Regions from separate parts of the Homo sapiens genome. Here regions 1 and 3 are each linked to region 2. The links come from fine-mapping of genetic effects on gene expression. A gene starts in region 2. Each other region holds a variant in brackets. All regions are shown on one strand. Distances are from middle to middle.

Evidence for each region.
Region 1: its variant is fine-mapped to the expression of UNC13C in thyroid (GTEx, PIP above 0.99).
Region 3: its variant is fine-mapped to the expression of UNC13C in prefrontal cortex (CommonMind, PIP 0.95).

The regions. Positions count from the first base shown.
Region 1 is chr15:53,820,138-53,828,327 of GRCh38, reverse strand. No RefSeq gene overlaps it. Among named protein-coding and RNA genes, the nearest start is that of WDR72, 65 kb to the right of the region's middle. RefSeq lists an enhancer at 5,903-6,072. The variant C/A (reference allele first, on the strand shown) is at 3,083.
Region 2 is chr15:53,974,288-53,982,477 of GRCh38, reverse strand. It overlaps UNC13C (unc-13 homolog C), which reads right to left and starts at 4,037. Exons shown (of 33, transcript NM_001080534.3): 1 at 3,551-4,037. It overlaps LOC124903495 (a long non-coding RNA gene), which reads left to right. Exons shown (of 2, transcript XR_007064646.1): 2 at 4,933-5,128.
Region 3 is chr15:54,012,692-54,020,881 of GRCh38, reverse strand. It overlaps UNC13C (unc-13 homolog C), which reads right to left. Exons shown (of 33, transcript NM_001080534.3): 2 at 4,996-8,190. The coding sequence starts at 7,978. Among named protein-coding and RNA genes, the nearest start is that of UNC13C, 38 kb to the right of the region's middle. The variant A/G (reference allele first, on the strand shown) is at 4,019.

The DNA.
Region 1 (8,190 bases), 150 kb after region 2:
CCATATCTGCAGTTCCTACAACATACCCAACTTGTGGTAAGCACTCACTAGGATCTGTGACATGAATAAATGAAGTCAGGTGAGTTGGTCACAGTGGAGCATTATGTAGGAGGTAAGTTTGGCTGAATGGGTAAGGTCAAATCATGAAAAAACTTGAATCATAGGATGAGTCTGGATACATACGACACATCGGAGTTTCTGAAGAACAGAGTTCAAGCCCCAGGACCTAGAAAAGTTCCTGACCCACAGCAGGCATTCATTACATGTTTCATGATCACATTATGTCAGATGTTAAACAAAATGGAGAAATTCCCTTTCTGTCCCACAGGAGAAAAAGGAGAATGCACTCACCCAGATTACAGAATTGACATTTTCTTTCTTTCTTTTTTTTTTTTTTCTTGAGATGGAGTCTTGCTCTGTTGCCCAGGCTGGAGTGCAGTGACACAATCTCAGCTCACTACAACCTCCACCTCCTGGGTTCAAGCAACTTCTGGCTAATTTTTGTATTTTTAGCAGATTCAGTGTTTCACCATGTTGGTCAGGCTGGTCTCGAACTCCTGACCTCAAGTGATCTGCCCACCTCGGCCTCCCAAAGTGCTAGGATTACAGGTGTGAGCCACCGTGCCCAGCCAGAATTGACATTTTCTGAATTATTCTTCCCTCCTACAGAATATAGCAGCCTTCTGATATTTCTAATCCACAAAATGTTAGAGCTTTCTTCTTGTTCAGCAGTCTTCTGGGAATTCCATTCTGGGTGAAACAAGATAGCAACTGATGACGAGGGAAAACGGGAGTTTCCCTAAGAGACACTGGCTTAAGTCACATAGCTATCACTGAGGCAGCCAGCATGAGGAACCCATTATAAGTGCCCTCAGAAGACACATTGTGAAAATGAATATCTAATTTCCCTTGGGACAAGCATCTAATTTTCTGTAACATTGTGCCTTCTCACAGATGAAAAGGGTTGCTCTCAGTTACTTGGATCAGTGTTCTCAGATGCTCTAGGAAAAGCACTTTAAATGGTTACTATGACCAGGACAAGATTTTTGAGCCAGTGTGTTGTCTGCATTTTTTTTGTGTGTGACTACAAAGAGTGTTTAGCAACGTTGTAGTTATAAAGAATAAGCATTATTACATGTTAATTTTAAAAGAAAGAAAATCAAGTTGCTATCTATGTACATACATATATTTTTATAACAAATGTGAAAAAATACATGAGGAAAAGCACACTAGGAAATCATCAGCTGGTAGTCTTAAATGATGCTAGCAATGCTTAGTGAATACTTAGTGAATACAGCCAGATGGATTACCTGAATTCTCATTTCATCTCACAACAACCTTATGGTATGGTTACTATTAACATGATCTCCACATTGCAAATAAAGGAACTAAGGCCCAGACAGGTAAAATAGCATTGCCAAGTACATGCTTTTAGTAAATGGCACAGGTGAAATTTGAATCTAGTCAATTAGATCCTAAAGTCTGTGCTCCAAACCATTGCACTGCCAATGGTATGGTATTTTATTCCTTCAACTTCCCCATCTTTGATATGTTTTACTTTTACAATAAAAAAAAAATTCTAGGATTATCCATATTTCTTGTTTGTCATGTAGAAAAATAAAATAGTATTAATGGGCTCATATACCAAGTTCGAAATAATATACAAAATATATCCTAAAGTTACCATGTATTTTACAAAACTCTATCTTGCATGAATAAATACCATACCCTATTTCTTGCTGAATCTGTTTTTTGAGAACAAACAAGTACATATGTTCTCATACAATGACCCGTACCTTAAAAAGGTAGCCTGCTGTGACCGTATCTGCAATCTGAATTGTAATTTTTAAAAGAATTAAGCTAAAAAAAGAAAACCACAGGTGCATAAAGTATCTGATTTGAAAAAAAAAATTAATGATGAAACCATCTTATCTTTTTAAAAATTATTACTCAATTATATTTAAATTTTAAAAAACTTTTCTGGAAAAAACATACTATTTAAAATTATACATTTTTAATGCTATAATTTTCTGAAAGTGATACTGACCCTGTAAGTAGAAAAAATTAAACAAAATGCCATGGTATCCATTGAAACTCTATAACTCTAAGTCTTTTTAGAAAAAAATCTGAAGAGAAAGGTATGTATTAAAATCTGTATCTGAAGTATACTCTAAGAATCAGTGACTGTGAGCCTCATTTTACCAAAGACCCACTTTAGATAGTAACACTCTCCTTCAACTCATTTTCAGCTCATTTAAGGTTTTTTCCCCCTCAGGTTCTGTTTGTTGTTGCCTGATGCTAACAATGTTTTCTTAAAGGTATAAAGGAAATGTTTTCTTCCAACATAATTTTCTGTGCACTGCAGGTCTTTTCTTTTGCCTTCTGGTAACTGACCTAACAGATTTTATCTTTTATTGAGTAATTCCTATGCCATTATTATTAAGTTTTGGTTTGTTTAGAAAAAACTTTGAGATTAAAATTATTTTTAATTAAGGTTATTACACCTGCGTATCTTTCTGTATGTGCTTTTAAAGTCCTTGTGACACTGAGTTACAGGGCTTTGATTCCTAGGTCTAAAAAGGACATCAAGTCCTGGTAAGTCTTAAACACTGACAGCAATGAAAGCCTCATCTTCAGGCTCAGTAGAAGATGCCAATCAAAATAAACTGTGTTCTTGACACACAGGACCAGAAATTAAAGCTATTCAACTCCTCGAGGCTCAGGGACTATTGCAGAAGAGGTGGGTGTGTGAGATTGTAAGGGCCAATTTTGAGAGAGAAAATAATTACATTTTCTCTATAAATTAACCATCAATGTCAAGCACACACTGATACAAGACCAGCATATGGGCCCCTGTGTCAGGTTAACAAGGTTTTCTTGAAGCATTAACTGACTCCTTAATAATGGTTATAAAAGTCTTACGGAAGCTATATCTTATGGTCAAAATTAAAATTTTATAGATTGTTTAGAAAAACAAATTTAATTGGCTTCATCCTGTTGTATTAGGGCTTAGTATTTGGAAAATTAAGTCTCCTCTCTCAAAGAATGAAGGTTTTCACTATTTTTAAAAAAAATCCTTGAG[C/A]TATCACTCCAGTTAAATGAATGACTTATCTGACAATGACCTGTGATCCTATGTTGTGATATCAAGTATTTTAACCTTTGATATTTGACAAACTTTCCAAAATCAAATTATAAATTATGTCTTTTTCTGACCTAATTAATCCTTTAAGATATTAGCTTCCCTAAAGTCCAAAAATGAGATATTTGGCTTATTTAGTATAAAAAGTGTACAGGAAGCATTGTCAAATATGAAATGGTGTTTGGTTTTCTTTCGGCTGTAGTCGTATAAATATGTTATTGGTATGTGTTCCAAAATTATGAATAACTCCTGTAATTCTGATATGACTTAGTGTACATTATCCATACTAATCATAATTGTTATGTTAAATTATTGTGTGCCACAGACGTAACAATTTCCTTGTCAATTGTGTCTTTGACAACGGCTGCCCTAAAACATCTTGTCATCTACAGACAGTTGTTTTGTTTTGGTCCACTTTAGAAGGTGGTTTTATAATCAGCTATAAAACTCTAACAGGTGCTATTGAATGCAGGTTTCTGACAAGTTTGGAGACTGTGATATCAGAATAGAGGAAAAATTTTCAGGACTCATGGAGAGCTGAAATGTTCATGAGTATCAAGGAATTAGCTGCATGGGCTGAACTAATAGAAGACAGAAGTGATTTTTAGACTTCTTGCTTAAAACATTGCTGATCCTTTGTTTTGTTTTTCAGAGTCAAGAAAACTTTTATTTTGAGCTATTGACAGCTTTTAACAATTAAGTATGCTCCTGAACAAAATGTGGAGCATATTTGTTTCTCTCTACCTTATTTCTCCAGAATTCAGAAACTATTTGTGAGTATTCTTAACTATGGCAATAGTTATTTGCATAAGTGCAATAAGAATCAGTTTTCATTTGTAACAGAACACAATTGGAGAAACTGCTTATTTTACCAAGGCTTTGACTGGAATGGTGTGATTTCCTTTAAGAAATTAAACTTGACCTATAGAGTTGCCAATAAAAGCCCCTTAGGAAAACTGGCTTCATACCTTGTCTACGCAGTTCCTGTCCCAGTTCCTGTCCTGTGGTAAGTAAAGAATGTCATTTTCTGACAGGCCCAGGAGCCCCAGGTTTTTTGGGGACCACAAGAGGAGTGGAATTCACCCAACTCGTAGATATTTGATGGTACAAATCCATGGCTGGGCTTGGTTTTACAGTAGTCTTATCTGAGATTCCCTCTATGGAACAAAGTTTCATCAAAGCCAATTTAAAAAGCCTATGTGGAAAAAATAATTATTCCTGCTGCACTTTATACAAATAATCTGGCCTAGTATAATAAAGCAAATTGGTCCTACCATGATTTGTCTTTAGTAAAAATGGGAAACTGGAGAGAGAAAAAAATATGTTTCAAAAACTACAGCATACTTGTTGTTACATTCTAGTTTTGCCTAATGTTTTTCAAATTTTATTATTTTCTACACTTTGGACTGAATTCTAATTTTTCCTGGCTATAAGTCTCCAAAATAATGCTTTCAATTTTTTTTTCTTTCTTTACCTTTTTTCCCCATTTTTCCTAGTTTGAAATCACTGGAAACTAAGCCATGCTTTCTTAAATCCTAGCAAACTGAAGCTAGACAACTTAAACTTCAGAAGAAAATAACAACTTATTTATATACATAAGCCGCTTTCATACCTGCCTATTGATATATGGACTTCAGAGCAATGTGGCTATATTAATTTTCTAGGATTGTTCTTTTTGTTGTTGTTGTTTTTCTCCCTTCCTCCCTCTGTTTTCTCTTCACAGGACATGAGACTTCACAAGCTGCTAAAAATGAGCTTTCCTAATAACCTAAAACCTACCCATCTAGGAATAAACTGTCCTAGCCATGAGAGACCAGACCAGAGACTCACTGTCTTCTAAAATGCTTCCTCCAAATATTTTTAAAAGAAAAGGGGGGAAATTTGATGGGAAAATAAATCTTGGGGCCCCCAAATCACTAAGCTAAAGGGAATAGTCAAGCTGGGAACTGCTTAGGGCAAACCTGCCTGCCATTCTATTCAAAGTCATCCCTCTGCTCACTAAGATAGATGCATATCTGATTGCTTCCTTTGGAAAGCCTAATCAGATACTTAAAAGAATGAAGCTATTTTTCTCTCACCTACCTGTGACCTGGAAGCTGCCTCCCTGCTTTGAGTTGTCCCACCTTTCTGGACAGAACCAATGTACATCTTACATATATTGATTGATGTCTCATGTCTCCTTAAAGTGTATAAAACCAAGCTGTGCCCCAACCACCTTGGACACATGTCATTAGGACCTCCTGAGGCTGTGTCATGGGTGCACATCCTCAACGTTGGCAAAATAAACTTTCTAAATTAACTGAGACCTGTCTCAGATATTCAGGGTTCACAAAGGAAAGCCATTTTTGGGGTGAGTTCTGGCAAAACAGCCAAGAGATATTACACACTACTTCTGTCCATGAGTTAGCCTGTGTCTCAATTGCATGTTTTGCATGATCTTTTTAAGTAAGGAGTCAAATAATTTTCTAAGTTTATTTTCTTCATGTCAATATTATATAAAAAAGAAGGTACACATATATTTAAGATAAGATGGAGGGGTTTTCTTTTTCTTAAATATTTATTCAGCATTGGAAAAGATACATCTCATTTATTGTTGCTAAAAGATGATTGGATACTATAAAATCATACTTGTTTATTTTACTAGGTGAAATTTTCCTGTTTGTCATTCAGTCACTTACCTACTCTTTTATTTATTCCCATGATTCATTTATTAGATTTCAATTAACAGATTTAAATGTAATAATCTATAGATGAAAAGAGTCAAGCTCTGTGATATGGTTTGGCTGTGTCCCCACCCAAATCTCATCTTCAGTTGTAGTTCCCATAATCCCTACATGTGGTGAAAGGAACCCAGTGGGAGATCATTGTATCATGGGGGCAGTTCCCCCATGCTATTCTCATGATAGTAAGTTCTCACGAGATCTGATGGTTTTATAAGGGCCTTCCTCCTTCAGTTGGGACTCATTCTCTTCCCTGCTGTCCTGTGAAGAGATGCTTTCCACCAAGATTGTAAGTTTGCTGAGGCTAACCAAGACATGTGGAATGGTGAGTCAATTAAACCTCTTTCCTTTATAAACTACCCAGTCTCAGGTATGTCTTCATAGCAGTATGAAAACTAACTAGTACAGTCTGTAAAATATTTGAAGAGATTTACTCTGAGCCAAATATGAGTGACCAATGGCCCATGACACAGCCCTCAGGCGATCCTGAGAACATGGACGCAAGGTGGTCAGGCTACACCTTGGCTTTATACATTTTAGGAAAACATAAGACTTCAATCAATACATGTAGGAGGTACATTGGTTTGGTCCGGAAAGGTGGTGGTGGGGTGGCTTCCAGGTCAGAGGTAGATTCAAATATTTTCTGATTGACAATTGGTTAAAAGAGTTAAGTATTGTCTAAAGATTTAAAATCAACAGAAAGAAATGTCAGGGTTAAGATAATGTGCTGTGTGGACCAAGGTTTTATTGCAGATGAAGCCTCCAGGTAGCAGGCTTCAGAGAATAGACTGTAAATGTTTCTTGCCAGACTCAGACAGTCTATCAGTCTTAAGGTCTGTGTTGATATTAATGCTGGTCAAGTGGGCCCGAATTCCAAAAGGGAGGAGAGTGTAATGAGGTATGTTCAACTCCTTCCTGTCACAGCCTGAACTAGTTTTCCAGGTTAACTTTGGAATGCCCTTGGCTGAGAAGAAGGGTCCATTTAGATGGTTGGGGGACTTAGAATTTTATTTTTGGTTTACAATCAAATGTTACAGATTCTTCTGTAAATAGTGTATTATTCATAAGCTCATACTTAATTCATTCTCTTATTGCTGCTGTTAATTTCTACAAAGTTGATTAAAGTCCTCTCTAATATCCATTGAAGTACAGGTGTAGAACAAAATGTTCCCAAATTACAATCCAGAAAGTTATGCTCTGAAATATAGAAGTAAAGTTTTGTTTAATTAGGTTGAATTCCACTCTCTCAGATGTTGATAAGAATGTGCTTGGTTTGTCAAATGCATAATTACAGATTTAATAGTTTTTGACTATGAAATAAAATTACATAGGTAACCACATACAAGAATTCTTAAGAATTCATCTCTTAAGATGAATTATTAAGCTTCTTAAGGCATATTTGGACAACCTATATAATTGACATTTGCCTATGCAAAAAATAATCCTAAAGCACACATTAGGGATGAAACTAATGCTGAACTCTGAACTCCATCTTATTCTAGCTATAAAAAAAGTTAATCTCTAGAAATATGGTCTAATAAAAAAAAGTCCCATCCATCTCACTAAGAGACAATATTACAAAATATTTTGCTTATTATCTTTAACAATTAATTGGATATCTTTAGAAGAAATATGACCTTTTTATTTTAAAATATTATTTTTTTAATGCCAGGAATTTTTCTCCAATATTTACTCTTAGTTGTCCATTTTAAATTTCTAGGTCATTTGAACAAAATGTGTTAAGAACATGCCAGTAAAGATTTTTAATATTATTCTAAGTCAATGGAAAGTCTTTAAAGTTTTATCATGAGATTACTGAATTAATGCAATTCATATTTTTTAAAAAATCATGATGACTGATATATGGGGAAAGAACAGGGGAAGAGGTTAAAGAGTGAAAGCAGACAGGCTGGTTGAAAGGAAACTGTAGTCTTTATAAGAAAGGATGGTGTTTTGGACTGGGGTGGTGGCTACAGAGATGAAAAAAGGGAGAGGATATAGCATATGTTTTAGAGGTAGAAACAACAGAATTTACTGATGGGTTTGTTATGGACCATGTAAGTCAATGACTCCTAGATTTTTGTTTCTGTTTTATTATATTTTGTTTTGTGTTTTGATTCAGCAATTGAATGTAATGGTGTCATTCATTCTATTAAGAAGCCTGGGGGAAGGGCAGATTGAGAGATAACAAGAGTCCTATTTCTACATATTAAATGTGAGTTGCTTATCAGACATTTAATTGAGGTTTCAAGTAGGCTATTGTATATACAAGTTTGAAACTAATAGAAGAGATCAGAGGTGTAGAAATTTAGATTCATCAATATCACACGG
Region 2 (8,190 bases):
TGCTTCAGGGAATGTGCCTAAGCCATTAGTTCTTCCCACCTATAAAGGAAATAGCCACCCACTCTGTCCAATCACTGCTCTTTTTCTTTTATATTTTACATGCTTCGAGAAGCTACTTCTAGAGTAAATAATTTCAACTTATAAAACACATGAAGCAAAATATTTTCATGCAAAACACTTTTTCCCCATCAAAAAGACATATTGCACCCAGATTCTCAAGAACCAGAAGGCTCAGAAACAAAGTATGTTTTATCCTGAACGCAGGATTTGGGCCAACAAAAATTGGCTGTTGGGAGCAAAAGACAGGCTGAAGATGGGATTGTGAAAATGTAGGGAGACAAGAAAATATTTGAAAGGGAAGCCCATCTTTTATGATTACTTTTTAAAAATACTTCGAAATCTCTGAGTACAATTTATAATGTTGAGTTCCTATCTTTCTATCTAGCATTTATTTCTACAAAATATTTTCTTAACTGTTTACATAGGAAGAATAATATAAAACTCTCTTCCATATCAAGATTATAATTAATTTCTGTATGCTGAGACTAAAATATACAATATGACTAGGATATAAAAGAGATGGGAAACATTTATGCCTACTGCATCACAACCATTTTGACAAGAGATGGAGAAACGATTCAGTGTGTCTTATTGTCTACTTCTCCTCTGGGGGACTTTTGACCTAGAGGTTAGAATATTTATTCCTGTCTCCCTTCCTATGCCTTAAAAGACTACAAGTGAAACAAATACTGCTGTGGCATCCATTTTCTCTGTAGAGATTATAGAACCGGTGATCAGTCTTTTGCATTCTCAAAAGCTACAGATTGAGAGGGCTATTAATAAATCCTTTTTTTTAAGCTAGAAGAAAGTTGGAGCCTAGTGATCCAACCACAGACAACTTAAGATCCAGAAAGGATTTGTAATAACAACAGAAATACAAATTTGATACTTTGAATTTGCAATTTTTTGCTACAGTTATTCTAAATGCATATTACCAAATGAATTGATATTAGGTACAAACTATGACCTATTTAGAAAGTGGCTTTCTAGCTATAAAAGTGTATTTCAGAAACAAACTTGGCATGTATTTAAAACTCTTAAAATTTCTAGATGCAAAGCAGGATTGTTTTTCTTGGGTGACAAAATGATTCTAATGTCTTCAAAAATTCTAGAGAATGCCTTTCCGTAGTAAAGACTATGGGATGGAAAGAATGAATAACAGAAACATATATGTTGAAACTGGAAGACAACGTACAGGTGGCATAATACTTCAGAGAAGTTATGGCAGGGTTTATGCATTGCATTAGCTGAAAAGGTTAACAGAAATGAAAGTGCCTGGAGAATCGGGGAAAAGATATTATCATACCAAAAGTGTCTGATATTACAAAAAACAGAGGTTTGCCCTAAATCAGCAGACAACGAAGTACGTTCTCTTCTGCACTGACCTTCCTCCCAACCCCACCTAAGCCCCAACATACATTTGGTGTGTTTTGTCTTTAAAAGGGGAATCACTGCAATTATCCTGTGTTTCCAATGACCCATGGGCTCTTAAGCAACTAGTTCTGTGCACCACAAACTATATTGCTTCACATTTAAAGATTAGCAACCATAGCAAGTTATTATATGGCCTGGAAAGGAAAACAGTTTACTTTATTAACAATAAGCCCATGAAAAGTGATTTCTCTAGGCTTTGCTAACACTTTACCTCGTATTTCACCTGGGCATGAATTTACCTAGCACATAGTGATGATGATCTCTGGAAGGAGTTTCCAGATTTCTTTAATGGAGGTCTAACAACAAATTATTGAATGCTAGGAAATAAACCCTTACCTACTATCCACCTTCAAATTTTACTGAAAAAACATTGGCAATTCTACTGAAATTACTTTCTCAACAAAATTCCATTATAGTTTGAAAATACAATTTTGTAAATTAGAGTTTCAAATATTCTTTTAGATGATCCTTGATCAGTTTATTAGTTTAAAAAATTACTTAATGGATTCAGTAAAATTACTGCTATAGTGTTTCACCTACAGACATCATAAGCTTCTTTATACAAGATGTCAACATAGAAGAAACACACAATGTTTTTCACTCCCTACTAACAAACATAAACTTAATACTTTGCTCATTTTCTAAATCACTCCTCTGGTATCAAGAATTGCCTATACTTACCATATTTTGACATTGTTGTTGTTATAGTCATGCGTGGAATTTTAAAACAAATGATTTCCTCATTTTGTTTACGGCCTAAGTGCTCCAGATAGCTACCATTTGGCAAAAATGAGGTTTATAGTTTTCAAAGAGCAGGGTGGTGATTTACTTTACAGTATGCATAAATGACAATTTAAAGCCCACTTACCTCTATTGCATTTGAACTTTTTAATCATAAGAAAGTGGGAACAACAATAATTAAAAGCCAGGGTCCTAGAGCTTTGGCATTAACTCTGTGTTAACACTAAAAATCTATTAAATATTTTATATATACAAAAATGTAGTACTTTCTCATTCTCGTTTCTCCCCTCCAGAAAATCTCATTTAATATAGACATATGCACATTTAATTTATTGACAATTTAACCCACTTTTATGAAAAGTATTGATGAGCAAAAGGTGGTAAGATGATTTTCTAAAAATCATTAAGTTTTTTATTAATTTCAAAATTATATAAACTTACAATTTTAGCTTCTTAAAGAAATGCAGAGTATTTTAAAACTAATCTTTATAAGCATTACCCACCCTCAAACCTCTTTCCTGTTTTTCCTTAAAAGCCTAACGAGGAAAATTGATTTTTAAGTGTTGTCATCTCCGTCTAGGTACTAAAGACAGCCAACATTACTATTGTTGTATATCTGTCTTACTCTTGATGATACAAGTATATTGATGATGTAATTGCAGAAGTTAGGGTTTACTCATGCTGTTGGACCAAAGGGATTTTTTTAGACTGCCTCCTTGAGCACCACAGAACAGTTGTAAAACAGAACCAAGCACACAATTTAAGCAATTCATCTCTTGAAAGTAAATCTGCAGGATCTTCTTCTTGAAGAACTGATGAAGAGCTAGAAATAAAAAAATCATTGGTAAAGCTTCTTTTGCTTCAGACTGGATGCTGAGCTGGAAAAACACTTGGGTGACACACTAGTGTATGACATCTTGGCTTTTAACCCTTTCCTAGAAGCCCTCAACTTTTGTTCTCTGTTGAGCTCTATTTTTTTCTTCCAAAATTCCGAGGGGTTATGGAATATCCCAGCCTTTCATCTCAACCCTATTTGTCCCTATGTAGATATTCTCCTGAAAGTTGACTGGAAACTAAGCAGTCATTTATCATTCTGAATTCTTTTTTTAAAAGCAATGACTGAGAAGTCATGATGCTCCATAGAATCATGTACATTATAAAAACAGGAGAGCCGAGATTTTACAAATATATCTGCTACGCTAAGAGAACCCCATGGTTGTGATTTCCAAGTGCAAACAAAAAGAAGGGACAGGAAAATACAGACAGAAAATCGCATGCAGATGAAGCAGTGCGTGCAACGGAGGAAAGAACATACCTGAGGAATTCTCCTTTAAAAAAAAATGTGCACGCCAACTGGGTTGTTCTTCCCCTCCTTTTGGAGTGTATGTGTTTTCCTTTTAGGAACACCACTTGCAATTGTGTTTCTAGTCTCGTTTCCTTTTTTCAATCACAAATAGTTAGAACAGGAGTGGAAGCTGCGTCCCAGGGATCCGACTCGTGCAATCAGGCATGCCTTGGTCTGCAACGGTGTCTGTTCTTTTCTTGTCAATTCTATCGCACTCCCGGGTAGCCTCCGAAGCAATTCTACAACTTAGCTGCTGGCAAGAAACTGCCTTTCACTCTTCTCATTGCCAAATACCTTCCGCGGCTCATTTCTCATCTCTTTCTCCCAGAAAGCAAAATGGGATCTCTCCCGTGTGTTGAGGAGCGCCCAGGCTCATCAACATTTGAGGGTGAGGAGCAGCCGGGCTGAGTGCGTGCTGGGAACTTCACACATCGCCGGCTGCGGCTGAGTCTTTTCTGAATGCAGCACCGGCACTGCGATCCCCAGCCTCCTCCACCGAGAGCGCCCGGGCTCCCTCTCCTGCCGCCGTAGCACGGCGTAGCTCCGAGAGGGTGAGCTACAGCCCCTGCTCACAGGAGACGCACTGTAGCCACTGCCAGGTGTGGCCTTCACCACCGCACTGACAACTAACTGTGTGGGACACAGCTTCATCGCTGGGAGACGCCTGAATGCCAGAGCTTCCTCAGCCTATCTTCCCTTTATCGCTGGATGATGACCTAGGAGACAGTCATGGCCAATTCTGCCAGTGGAATAGCGTGGATAATACTAAATTACCCATGTTATTCAACAATGACTGTTTTAGATGTACTTGACTGTACTTGGAATTATGAAAGTATACCGCACACAGTATCATTCCCTATTAGCCACCAAATGCAGCTAACAGGACCCTGTATTTAAATAGAGGAGATACTGATATCCCATCCCAGTTGGTTTTTCCTCTTATTTTTGTGGAAAACCATTTGAAGGTGATTCCTGAACAATTTCAATTAATGACACATGCATAAATCAAAGTGGGAAATGATGGGTAACTTACAGTGATGCAAAGGTTTTTCTTCTCACTTAGGAATAATGTCTTTTCATTTGATGTTAACATTTTAAAGATCTGGCTGGGAATTGAATGGACTTGCTTTCTCTTTTAGTTTTGCTGAGTAGAGGAGGTGGGGGGAGTAACAGTTCCCACTTTCCATCAATAAAGCATTTTCAATCCTCTAATCCTCCTGTTGAAACAAATAAAAAAGTACTGAATCTTAAAATACAGCCTTAAAGCAGCTTGAGGCCTGAAATAATTTGGAGGTTTTAAGCTACATCTGCTCTACTGCTTACTTAAAATTTTACTTTTCTTTGCTTTTTAGAAAATGGAAGGATATTTCCAGGACTGAAGAACGTCAACTAGCAGCTGTGGTTAAACAGTATAGGAAGCATATATACAGATTTGTATGGCATTTTTCAGTACATGGAGGGATGAATATGTCTTGACTGACATTAGAATTGACTCCACCTAAATATTCAATAATAATAGTTGCCATCAAAATAAACAGTTAAACCGGATATAGCATTTTGTGGCAAAACTTGTGGCAAAACATTTCACCTACCGTATGTGACAACCAATAAATAACCTCTCCATGATGTTTAAAAAAGTGTCCCCAAATGTGACACAATATATATGTTGGGTACTAGCAGCTGAGCCCTCCCCATTCCCAGCTATCAGCCCCACCTTTAATTCAGAGCAGCACAGCTTCCCTTACCCGCTGCTTAAGTGACTGTTAATGGACCTGAGCAGCTGCTCAAGGTCTAATGATCTGCATCAGGGGCAAGTACCAGGGCAGTCTTATTCCTGCCTTCACTCATCACGGGAGTGGCAGGCAGGACAAAGCTCTGCTGCCCCCGGCTGTAACACTGGAGAGTAGCACAGGAAAACCGGTTAGACCTAGAAGCACCTGATAGGGCGAAACTTGACTTTTTTATACAGAAAAACTCATGCTAGCCAATACACTATTTTGAAGAACGTGTTTTAATACATAGAGAAAAGAACACCTATTCACTGAATCTGTTTTCACTTTTTGGTGTGAAATAACCACTGCAAAGTACAGAAGCTGTGGTCAGCTGAGAGACCCTAGCACCCAGAATAAGGTAAATGTGCATACGTCTTCAGTAAATTTGGATTTAATGTCAGTGATGTAAATGTTTAAACCTACAGAAGGAAATAAATGAAAGATGATTCTAACCATGAGCGGTCTATAAAACATGTATGTAGGAAAATTAGCCAGACTTGGTGGCGGGTGCCTGTAATCCCAGCTACTCAGGAGGCTGAGGCAGTAGAATCACTTGAACCTGGAAGGCGGAGGTTGTAGTGAGCCAAGATCGCGCCATTGCACTCCAGCCTGGGCGACAGAGCAAGACTGAAAAAAAAAAAAAAAAAAGAGAGAGAGAGAGAGAGAGAAAGAAGAAAAAAAAACACCATGTATGTAGTGCCATGAAAAGTTTGAAAATATTGCTCTAATTCAAATATTCTCGTAGAGGAAATGAATCACACCAGGGGTGGTAATCATTAGTTTTTATTGGAAAGAAGAAATAATGTTTCATGAATGCTTCGATGCCAGCATGTGTGTTTTAATGAATGCAGTGCTAAGCTCTAATAATCAGGATTCTGGTCATATATTTCAAAATGGAAATTGTTTACATCTCTGAAAGTGGCAGGAAACATGTATGTGAGGGACTCTGGCTGCTAATAAAATATGTTGCCGTTAGAGTGACAGAGCTTTATGACTTTATTGACCTGCAGGGACATCAAAATCCCTAGTAGAAATGTTTTGGCTTTTGACGAGTAGTTTTCACTACTGAGTACCTGATTTGAATAATGTGTAATTACAACGATGAGATTTCAACAGTAAGAGCCACATTCTTATCAGTAAGATGCATTCTGTTTCTACGGAGCTTTTCAAAGTCTTGAATTAATAACATTAAACAACACAGGATAAGAAGTAATTTCTATTTATACACTCACCCCATCCATAGGTACATGCCTCAAAACTTATAGATGGTTGGATTAAATAATAAGATCATTTCTCCTCCAAATGCTTCAGCAGTCATTTCAGAAAGAATAAAACCTCTAGGGTACCATTCACCTCTCATACCCCAAGACATAAGCTGAGCCAGATCATTTGTCTCATTTATGGTTCAGGTGGAAGAAAAGCAAGGAACCTGGGTCACTGCTTATTTTTTAGTACAGTAGTAGTGAAGCTTGACTAAACCAAAAGAATCAAGTAAAGGGGTCATTCTTGTAGAATTGTGTCATGGCCTGTATATCTGGCTTTAAGCAATAGAGGAATCCTTGAAAAAGCATAAACCAATCCTGTGTGCATGGAATTGTGTTTTCAGTGTTTTAGAAAACCTCGATCTTTATTTTAGGGAATTGGTAACCAACCATTGAACCTCACTATTATATTTTTTAAAAAACAATACTCTGACCAATCATTGGCTCTCTGTTTCCATGCAAATGGATTGGCAAAATGGATTAGTTGTCCAGATAATTACGGAGAAAAATATGATTATGTTTAAAACAGCAAGTTGGCATTTCTAGCTCTATATAAGTAAATAATGTATAGGAGAACGACTATTTGGAAATAAACCATCTTATGCAATTTGGAAAGATGTGCCTAGCATAGATTACATGGTAGTAAAACACACGTTAAGTTCTGTTCTTAAATTAAAGCTTTCCATTAAAGTATGGGTCACTTTAAAATGGCACTTTTGAGTAGAATTGACAGTATGTAACTTTAGAGACTAGGCCACATAAGGTACTGCCACTTCCTGTTTGCCCACTCTGGTTTGCTCACTCTGGAGGAAGTTAGTTGCCATGTCATGAGGATACTCAAGCAGCCTAGGGGGAAGTCCACGTGGCAAGGAACTAAGGACTCCTGCCAACAGCCAGACACAAACTGTGACCTCCTGCCAACAGGCATGCGAATGAGCCATTTTAGAAGCTGACCCTCTAACCATGTTCAAGCTTTCAAATGACTGCAACCACTGCTGACATGCTAAATGCAACCACATGAGAAACCCTGAGGCAGAAAAACCCAGGTAAGCTATTCTCGAATTTCTGGCCCACAGGAACTGTGAGATAATAAATGTTCATTGTTTAAATGAAAAAAAAAAAAAAGTGCTTTTGACTTTTCCAACTGAGGAATGAGATTATTTTTCAACTGTGGGATTTAAATGCATCTAAGTGATTTAAGAAGTAAAATTTTAGGCTCAACAAATTCTGTCACAAGATATGGATGCTGTACTTCTCCAGTCAGTATTGGCAGTGCCTTCTAAGCGCTTTCATAAATCTCTGTTGTGGCACTGATTTATTATACAGTATGCTAACTACTATTTTACTCATCTGCCTGATTTTCCTTGCTGGACTGCGAGCTCCTTGAGGGCAGAGACCATGGTTCATTCATTTTTATATCACCAATGCCCAGCTGAAGGCTAGACTCATAAAAGGTAGGTTGATGAGTGAGTGAATAATAGTGTGCTTGCTTAGTAAAGCACAGAGTTAATGAGGCTAAGGACACGGGTTGAGTCCCTGTGTAGCCAATTAGCTTTGTTCTATTTCTTGGTCCAAA
Region 3 (8,190 bases), 38 kb before region 2:
GGAAGATTTACCAAAAACAAACAAAAAAAAAGCCCCAAGTTGTCAGATAAAATGTGGAAGGATAGGAATTTATTTGTAGGCAAAATTATGCACTAAATGGTTTCTACAGGAAAATCCCCTAGGACTTTTGATACAGATGATTTCTAAAATTTTAAATTCATACATACCTTTTAAGGAATACATCTTTATTGCTCTATTTTCATATGTAGATATTACTAAAGCCTTTTCACAAAATGTAATAATCTACTTAACTCTGAAAGGTTGACAAAACATCTTTTGTTTTTAAGTTAAGAAAAATCGGCCGGGTGTGGTGGTTCACGCCTGTAATCCCAACACTTTGGGAGGCCAAGGCAGGCAGATCACGAGGTCAGGAGTTCGAGACCAGCCTGGATAATATGGTGAAACTCCATCTCTAATTAAAAAAAAAAAAAAAAAAAAAATTAGCTGGGCGTGGTGGTGCATGCCTGTAGTCTCAGCTACTCGGGAGGCTGAGGCAGGAGAATCGCTTGAACCCAGGAGGAGGAGGTTGCAGTGAGCTGAGATCGTGCCACTGCACTCCAGTCTGGGTGACAGAATGAGACTTCATCTCAAAAAAAAAAAAAAGAAAAAAAGAAAAAAATTATTAATATTTTTCCTTAGACTGATTTTATCTCTTTCAAGTTTAAAAAGGGGGAAATTAAGAACGCCGTGTGAGCAGGTATATTTGCTACATAGCTTTTAGTAGTGCTCTTCAAATGTGTTCTGATGATCACATCCCTCAGAACCGTCAAGGGAGCATCTGAATAGCCAGACTGCATCCTCCTGACCTGGACTGTCCACAGGTGAGCTTTTTTACTTTTCATTTTAGATTTTGTTTTATTATGTTTTTAATTGTGTGTGTGGTTGTTGCTGTTGTTTTATTAAAGGGCATATATTACATCAGTAACTCGTGTAATTTAAAGGCATATGCCTGGCCCCGTTGTAGGACCACCAAGTCACAATAATCTGTGAAAATATGCTAATAATTGGTCATTTTAAAATAACATCCCAGGAACAACTACTACAAAAGCTTTCCAGATGATTCTAACAACCAGCCAGATTAGGAACCACTAGTCTAACAAAGTATCTACCTTAGGAAATTTTAATACCTTCAGTTTTATATCCTTACTTGGAAGTCAACATATTCTGACAGTTTTATAACCATTCAGAAAACAGAATATATACATGATGTAAAAACTAGGAAGTATGCTAATTTCCGATATCACAGTCTCTTTCAGAACAAGATTTTTGGTCTTCTGCTAGGAAAACTATTAATACTTCAAACTGACGTCAGGTTCTGATTTCAGGTAAAGTGTATCAGACTGCAAATACAACATCCTTCAAGCAGCTGTTATAGTACAGTATTTATTGCACTCTACAAATCTTGATTTATAAAATGAACCAGGGATTTGAAGTAGAAACACTGAGAATGAACTATTTCACATCAAAACCTGAGAGTCCCAGAAACTTAGTGCCTTTCATATTCATACTGGTTTCTCGTGAATATCTCTGAGTTGAACTAAACCTAGTGGCTGACTCTGTTCTTCATCTCTTATCAGTTTTTCCAACTTAAAACTTGAATAAAAACAACCTTTGAAGTGAATAAGCATACTGCTGCTCTAAATAGCCAAAGTAACAATCCATGTAATTCTGGATCCACCACTTATTAGCTGAATGACATTAAGCTAGGTAAGTTTTCAGCATCTGCTTCCTCACCTGTAAAATGGGATAATAATAAAATAAAATTAATAGTGGTGTTATAAGAAGTAAAAGAATGAAAAACAGGTAAACAGCCTGGAAAGGGCCTAATATATAGTAATTCTGAGTAATAAGCTTTTATGTCTATTCTTCTGAGTTCTCAGGAGATAAAGTCATAGTCTTAGCGATTAAAAGCCACAGTTTGAATTTGGATTTGACTTTAAAGTTTGTGTTTTTTTATTTAGTATCCCACCTCTCTTGATTCAGGCATTTATCCAACACATATTAACTCAATGCCATATGGGTATAAAACACTGGTCTAGGCACAGTACAAGTTAAAGGATTAAAAAAAAAGACAACTTGCCTCTAGACTATTCTGGAATAGAAAATGAGAAATGCACATAAATATGAGAGTCAGTGTGATAAGAGGCAAGTACATGGGAATTTTGAGGAGACAATAAATAGTTAATTCCAGTTGATAGGTGGTACAAGGCTGAAGGTGGGGGATCAGAGAGTCACCATCATGGTGTAGGAATCAAGACAGCTGCACAAATGGTGCCAACTCAGCAGGGGCCAGCAACAATGGAAGAATTTGACTCATGGGGAAGCTTCTGGCTACACACACTCTAAGGTCTCTTCCTACTGGAATGCTGTTTAAGGTGGAAAGTTCTCTGAAACATTATCATCAAATATCCACATCTATAAACATTGGAGTTTTCTGGTCCTCTGGATCCTGAAGACAACAGTTGAAATAAATAATTCAAATGTGTGAGCTTATAATTCCATAAAGCTGTGTCAGAGAGACAGCATCCCACAGTTTGACAGCAAGAGCTCTGCACTCCAATCTGGCTAAGGTTACTTATGGAGAAAAGACAGCACTGCTACCTCGTGATAACTACGTAGCCATGGAGAGAAAAAATATGTTGGCATCTTCCCAAAGCCCAGTAAGCAGATGGCCATGGGAACAGAAACCATCATGACAATTGGCACCTCTTTGGGATGCTCTGAGCAGGAAAGGGGCCTGGAAAATGTCCTTCTTTGGCTGTCCTTCCTTCAGAGGCATATGGGTGGCACAGGATGGGGAAAACTGCCTGACTGCTGCCAAGGGGAGCAGAGATAGCCTTTAAAATCTAGGCTACCGCAGCTTCCTGGGTAGTCAATCTGGTACCTTTCAGCAACCAGAGACCATCTTAAAGATGTGTGTGCTGATTTCCTCTAGGACAGATGATATCCAACAGATTCCATTCAAAGTTGGCTCACAGGATAATAAGAAGCCAAGCTCCAAGAGGATGGAGGGGTCTGAGTCCTCTATAGCCAGGCCTCATATGCAGGTAAATGGCACAGGATTGTTTTATCCGTGGTTTTATTCTTAACCAGGTGGCTATAGATAACCAAGAGCATGTGTGTATTCCAAGGTTAAGTGCCACTCACTGGATGACTAAGTTTGTTAGCTGGCTGAAGGGTCACCATCAGTAACAATCTGCTTTGCAGAGGCTTGCTAATTTGGAATTTTTAGAAGTTGAAGAAGATCCATTTTTCTGAAATGTATCATCTTGTCCTATTTATGATATTGCCTAACATTTCAAGCAACTACATTAACCAACTGCCATTAAAACATTTCTCTATTATGTCACAACAGATATATACAAACCACACACACACACACACACACACACACACATGCTCATGCACTTCTTAGTCTTCATTTGCCTTTGAGTAAACTCTGAATCAACAGCAAATAAAATACATTGTCAAACTGCTGGCCTGTATCCCAAGAAATAGCAAATGAATTTCAGTAACAAGGATATCCGACTCTCAAAAATCACTCCAATATAAGATAGATATTATTACCATATGCATTACATTTGCATAACATTTGACTACTTTTCACTCTTAAATCAGTTTTAAATATAGTTGAGAACTACCCATCCCTGCAAAAAAAACAAAAACACAAAATGTTGCAACAGCCAGTGCATTCAAGATCCCTTTGACTTATATCATTCCTAAATAAATTACATAAACTGTGTTGTTTTATAAAGATAGATTTTTAGAGTGGCAAACCCTAGTTATTTCAGTTGTCTTAGAAATTCAAATAGTTTAGCAGTAAAGATTTCTGATTATTCAATAATCTACTCACATCAACCACAAAATGGCTCATTTAGGGGAGTTTGATCACAGCTTTGGTCAAGACAGAGAAGATATAACCAGCTACTGGCTGCAGATATTATTATGTTATTTGATAATAGCAAGTAACACTTGGTCATATACACCTTTATGAAGTATTATGTAGAGTAATAGCTTA[A/G]TTAATGATGACAATCCCATGATCAGGGAACATAATAATAATATGCAATTCATTTAAATTTAGATAGTAACAGACTATTCCAAAAATGTAAGTAATTAGCATGCAACTAAAATAAATGGTAAGGGAGTGGAATAAGTGCGGAGGAAGTTGGGTTGAGAAATAGAAAGTAAACAAACTCTTACATTTACATATAACTATCACTTTCCAAAAGTATATAATCCAAAGTTGTTCCCACAAGAAAGCAATTAAAATAGTTAGTTAAGGTACTCTTCTCATTTCCATGGTGGAGAAGGGACTTTATTCTTAAGAAGGTAACCACTCAACTCTATCCCCTTACTGATCTCTTCTCAAAGAATAGCTTGTGACCACTCAGACATGACCTAGGGCCTTGGCTCTATTGCTCTCCCTGACTGTGCCAGTAGGTTGTAAGGGAGTCCATGGTCTTCCATGGGACTGTCCTGTGCACACACAACTTTTCCTATGGGCAACCCCTAAATTGTTGAATGGATAGGAAAATGAGTGGTTAAGTCTCAGAGTCCATCTTTTCACATTTTTTTTTAAGATTACACCTTTTTCTCCATCCCTGTAAACTTAATGGAACCAAGAAATAGATGCCAGGCTGTTGGCTTAACCTTTGGTTTCACTCAACTTTTGTTTGACAACTGATGCCACAAAGTTAGTTGATGTTAAATGGGGTTTGTGCCTAAATTTAGCAGAGAAATCTGATCCACAATGTGTTGGGTTAAGTTTGGGCTCATTCCAATATGACCCATTTAACATATTCTTTGATTTTAAATCATCAAGCCCAACTTCTTAGGAGAGCTGCCTGAGTAAAACAAAATGCTCCTCAGAGTAAAGCATGGAAAGTCATTGCAAGTAAACTCTTTCACCCAAGTAAACACAGAGCATGCTCTAAAGAAGTGCTACCCAATGTTAAAACACAATTAGCTCACAATGTAGCATTTAAACATGAATACCTCCAGCCAAGATCTTCTCTTCCAACTCTGCCATTTGCTTTTTATAGGCCCTTAAAGCTGCTTCTTTGAAAGAAGGACGAATTCTCTTTGGCTTTGTGATCTCCACTGGCTGTTCAGGAATGTTTTGGTTTTCATCTTCTCTTATTTCCATCTCAGCTGATGTTTCATTTAAGGGTTCTAACCCCTCTTCACTAACCATATCATCTGCTGGACCATCATAACCCTCATCTTGTGGGGTTTCATAAGGTGTTTCATATGAAAGGTGATCATATGCTTGCATTTGTTCATCTGTTTCAGTAATACTAGTCCTGTTTTCTAGTTTAGCAAGGACTTGTTCCATGACTTCAACATAATCTGTTTCATTGTCAGCCACTGGTTCAGTATAATCTTCCTCATCCTCTGCTTTATAGTAATAGGGCTCCGTGTAGACATCAGAGTCAAGTGTGGTACTTGACTCATTTGCAGTTGATTGAGATAATGTCCGAAATCTCCCCATTAATGAAGAGCCACTGTCCTCATACCCACTCAGACTCTGTGTGCTTTTGTTCCATACTACTTCCAAGGCTGATTTAGCCCTCTGCAGTGTAGATCCAAATTTTGGGAAGCTGAAAGTCTTATCAGAAAGGTCAATGCTTAATCGACTATGCCATGATTTGGGTGGGGCATCCTCTGAATCATCACTTTGCAATTCACTTTGACTTCGATACATCATGGACAACTGGTTTTGATTTTGGTATAGCTCATTAGAATTAGCTCCCTGATAAGAATCATATTGGCCAACCCACTGGCCTTGTGGTTCATTATCCAAGCCAGGGCATGGAGAAGAATTGTCATCTTGAGTTAAGTCGTAGCTCTCTGAGTCATCTTGAAGATCACTGTGGCACTTTCCCAAGTATTCTAGGTCTTTATTGTAAACATCAAGCTGTTGGTCAAAAAGACTGTTTGTTTCATAATCAAAACCTTCCTGGGTGGATGAATCCAAGCCTAAATCAGCTCCTTGATTCCATTCCTTCCATGGAGAAAGATCCTCATGTAAAGAGAGCTGAGAATCACTGTAATGACTCCGGTCTCCAGATGCACACACCATGCCATTACTCATTCCACTATCCACAGTTTCTGTGTTTTCAGTTTCAGTCTGCCCTTGGATACCCTGAACACCTCCATTCAAATGCTGGTCCTTGGGACTGTCATACAGGGTCGCTGTTCCTTCCTGTTTCCTCTGCCATAGCTCCCGGTCCGAAGATGACAGGAGAGAGCTTCCATTAGTTCTAGTGAAAAACTGATTTTCTGAAAAATCTTCTGAGTAAGACTGACACAATTTGGAAAAATCTGATTCAGAACGACTAAGTTTAGCAGTGAAAAAATCACTCTGTGAGTGCCAGAGAGGTGTTGCATCTGCATAATGGGTTGTGGTTTGCTTTTCCAAGATATCTGATTCTGGCAACTGTGAGGAGATTTTATCATAATCTGATTTATTTGAAATTCTGCTGCTATTAGCAGTTTTATTCTTGGATCTAGCACTGTGTGATTTTGAGCTTGGCTTGGAAGTACTTCCCTTTGTTAGAAGCTCTGACTTGGAAAGCACAGCGTAACTGTTTCTATTGAGGTCAGATTCAAGATCTTCATCACTGTCATCAGGTGACTGCCAATTGTTCTTCTTGATTTTTGGCTCTGGAGTAGACAACTTTATAGCCATGCTCTCATATGTCTGGGAGGATGGTATCCCTTTCTCTTTTCTTTCTCTGATGTCATGAGTTAGAATATCTGTTGAGATTCCAATGCCTGTTCCTTTGAGTTTATATGACTTTTTTAAGACAGAATCCCTTTGTTGAGGGGTTTCAAAGTACACAAGTATGGGTCGAGGCTTTGCATTTGGGCAGTCTCTCTGGTGTCCTATCCTCTGAGCAAATTCAATTTTAATAGCATTTGGTGCATCTGAAAAACCCATTTTATCTATTAGAATTTGGTACACCACGCTTTCAACATATTCAAATCTTTCTTCAGTCACATTTAAAAATCTCAGGCTTGCCTTGCTACCCATATGACCTAAGTGCTTAATATAATCATGGATGTCTCTAGTTTCCCTCCGAGACTGGACAAACCCTGTGCGCAACTGCTCAATTTCACTTTGTACAACCTCCACACTGCTGGAGATCTCATCGATGGAGTGCTTGAGAGCATTGACGTGCCCTCGTAGTTCAGAAAGTTCTGTTTCAATCTGACTTATTCCCTGAAGTTCCTTAAAGATCATTTCCATGACATCATGTGTTTGGCTAATGCAGCCAGAGGAACTGAACCCTGGCTCCAGGGCATTTGTCTTTGGGTTTCGGACAGTTCTGTCCAAAGACTTACTTCTTATTCCCCAGGATTTTTTCATGGTGCTTAACTCTGAGTCTGAGGAGACACATTCTTGACTCTTTTTCCATTTTCTCAGTTTTCGTAAAGCTCCCAGTTTTAAGCCATGTAGAGTACGCTCCCCGTCAGAGCTGCCCTCAGAGGGTGCAAGGCTGCTTGAACTCTTTCTGTTGCGTCTAACTGGCATTGTGTGTGTTGATTGTGCCTGGTTTTCTGTGCTACTCCTTAGTTCATTTAATGATTCTGAGTAGGAACTCTCGATTGAAGAGAGCTCTTGAAGCAGATCCTCATTATCACTGTTGGTTACTTTAGCATTCTTTTGTAGGCCATTGGCAATAGCTACTCGGTAACTGAATGTTGGTGAGAGGGAAAACTCTTTACTGGCCTCGTCTTCCTCAGTGGATAAGTTGTGAGTGGATGAACACTTTGCAATCTTCTTTACAGTGCTTTTAAAAGTGTAAGAAAATTTGGGGGATTTGGTCTGGCCAGCAGTGGGGAAGTCTTGATCCTTTTTCTGCTGACGATACTCTTTGTTTTTGTTTGTATTTCCCAATTTCTTTGTAAACATTCCTTTGCAAAGCTTATGAATGTAAGGTAAAATCAAGCTCTTGAAAAAATTAGCCACCATGGAGAGCAATTAGTGCAAGCTTTTCTGCCCCAGAAAAGTAAACAAGTATCAGGATGAAAACCTGAAAATCCAAGGCAAGCATCACTGTTCAGAAGTTCTGTGAATCACTGGAAAGAGCAGGAAGGGCAGGCATGGCTCTGCCACATTGTCGCTGTCCTGTGCAAACCAGAAGCAAAGCTCCATCTGTGAAAGACATTCTTTCCTGGAGGAGG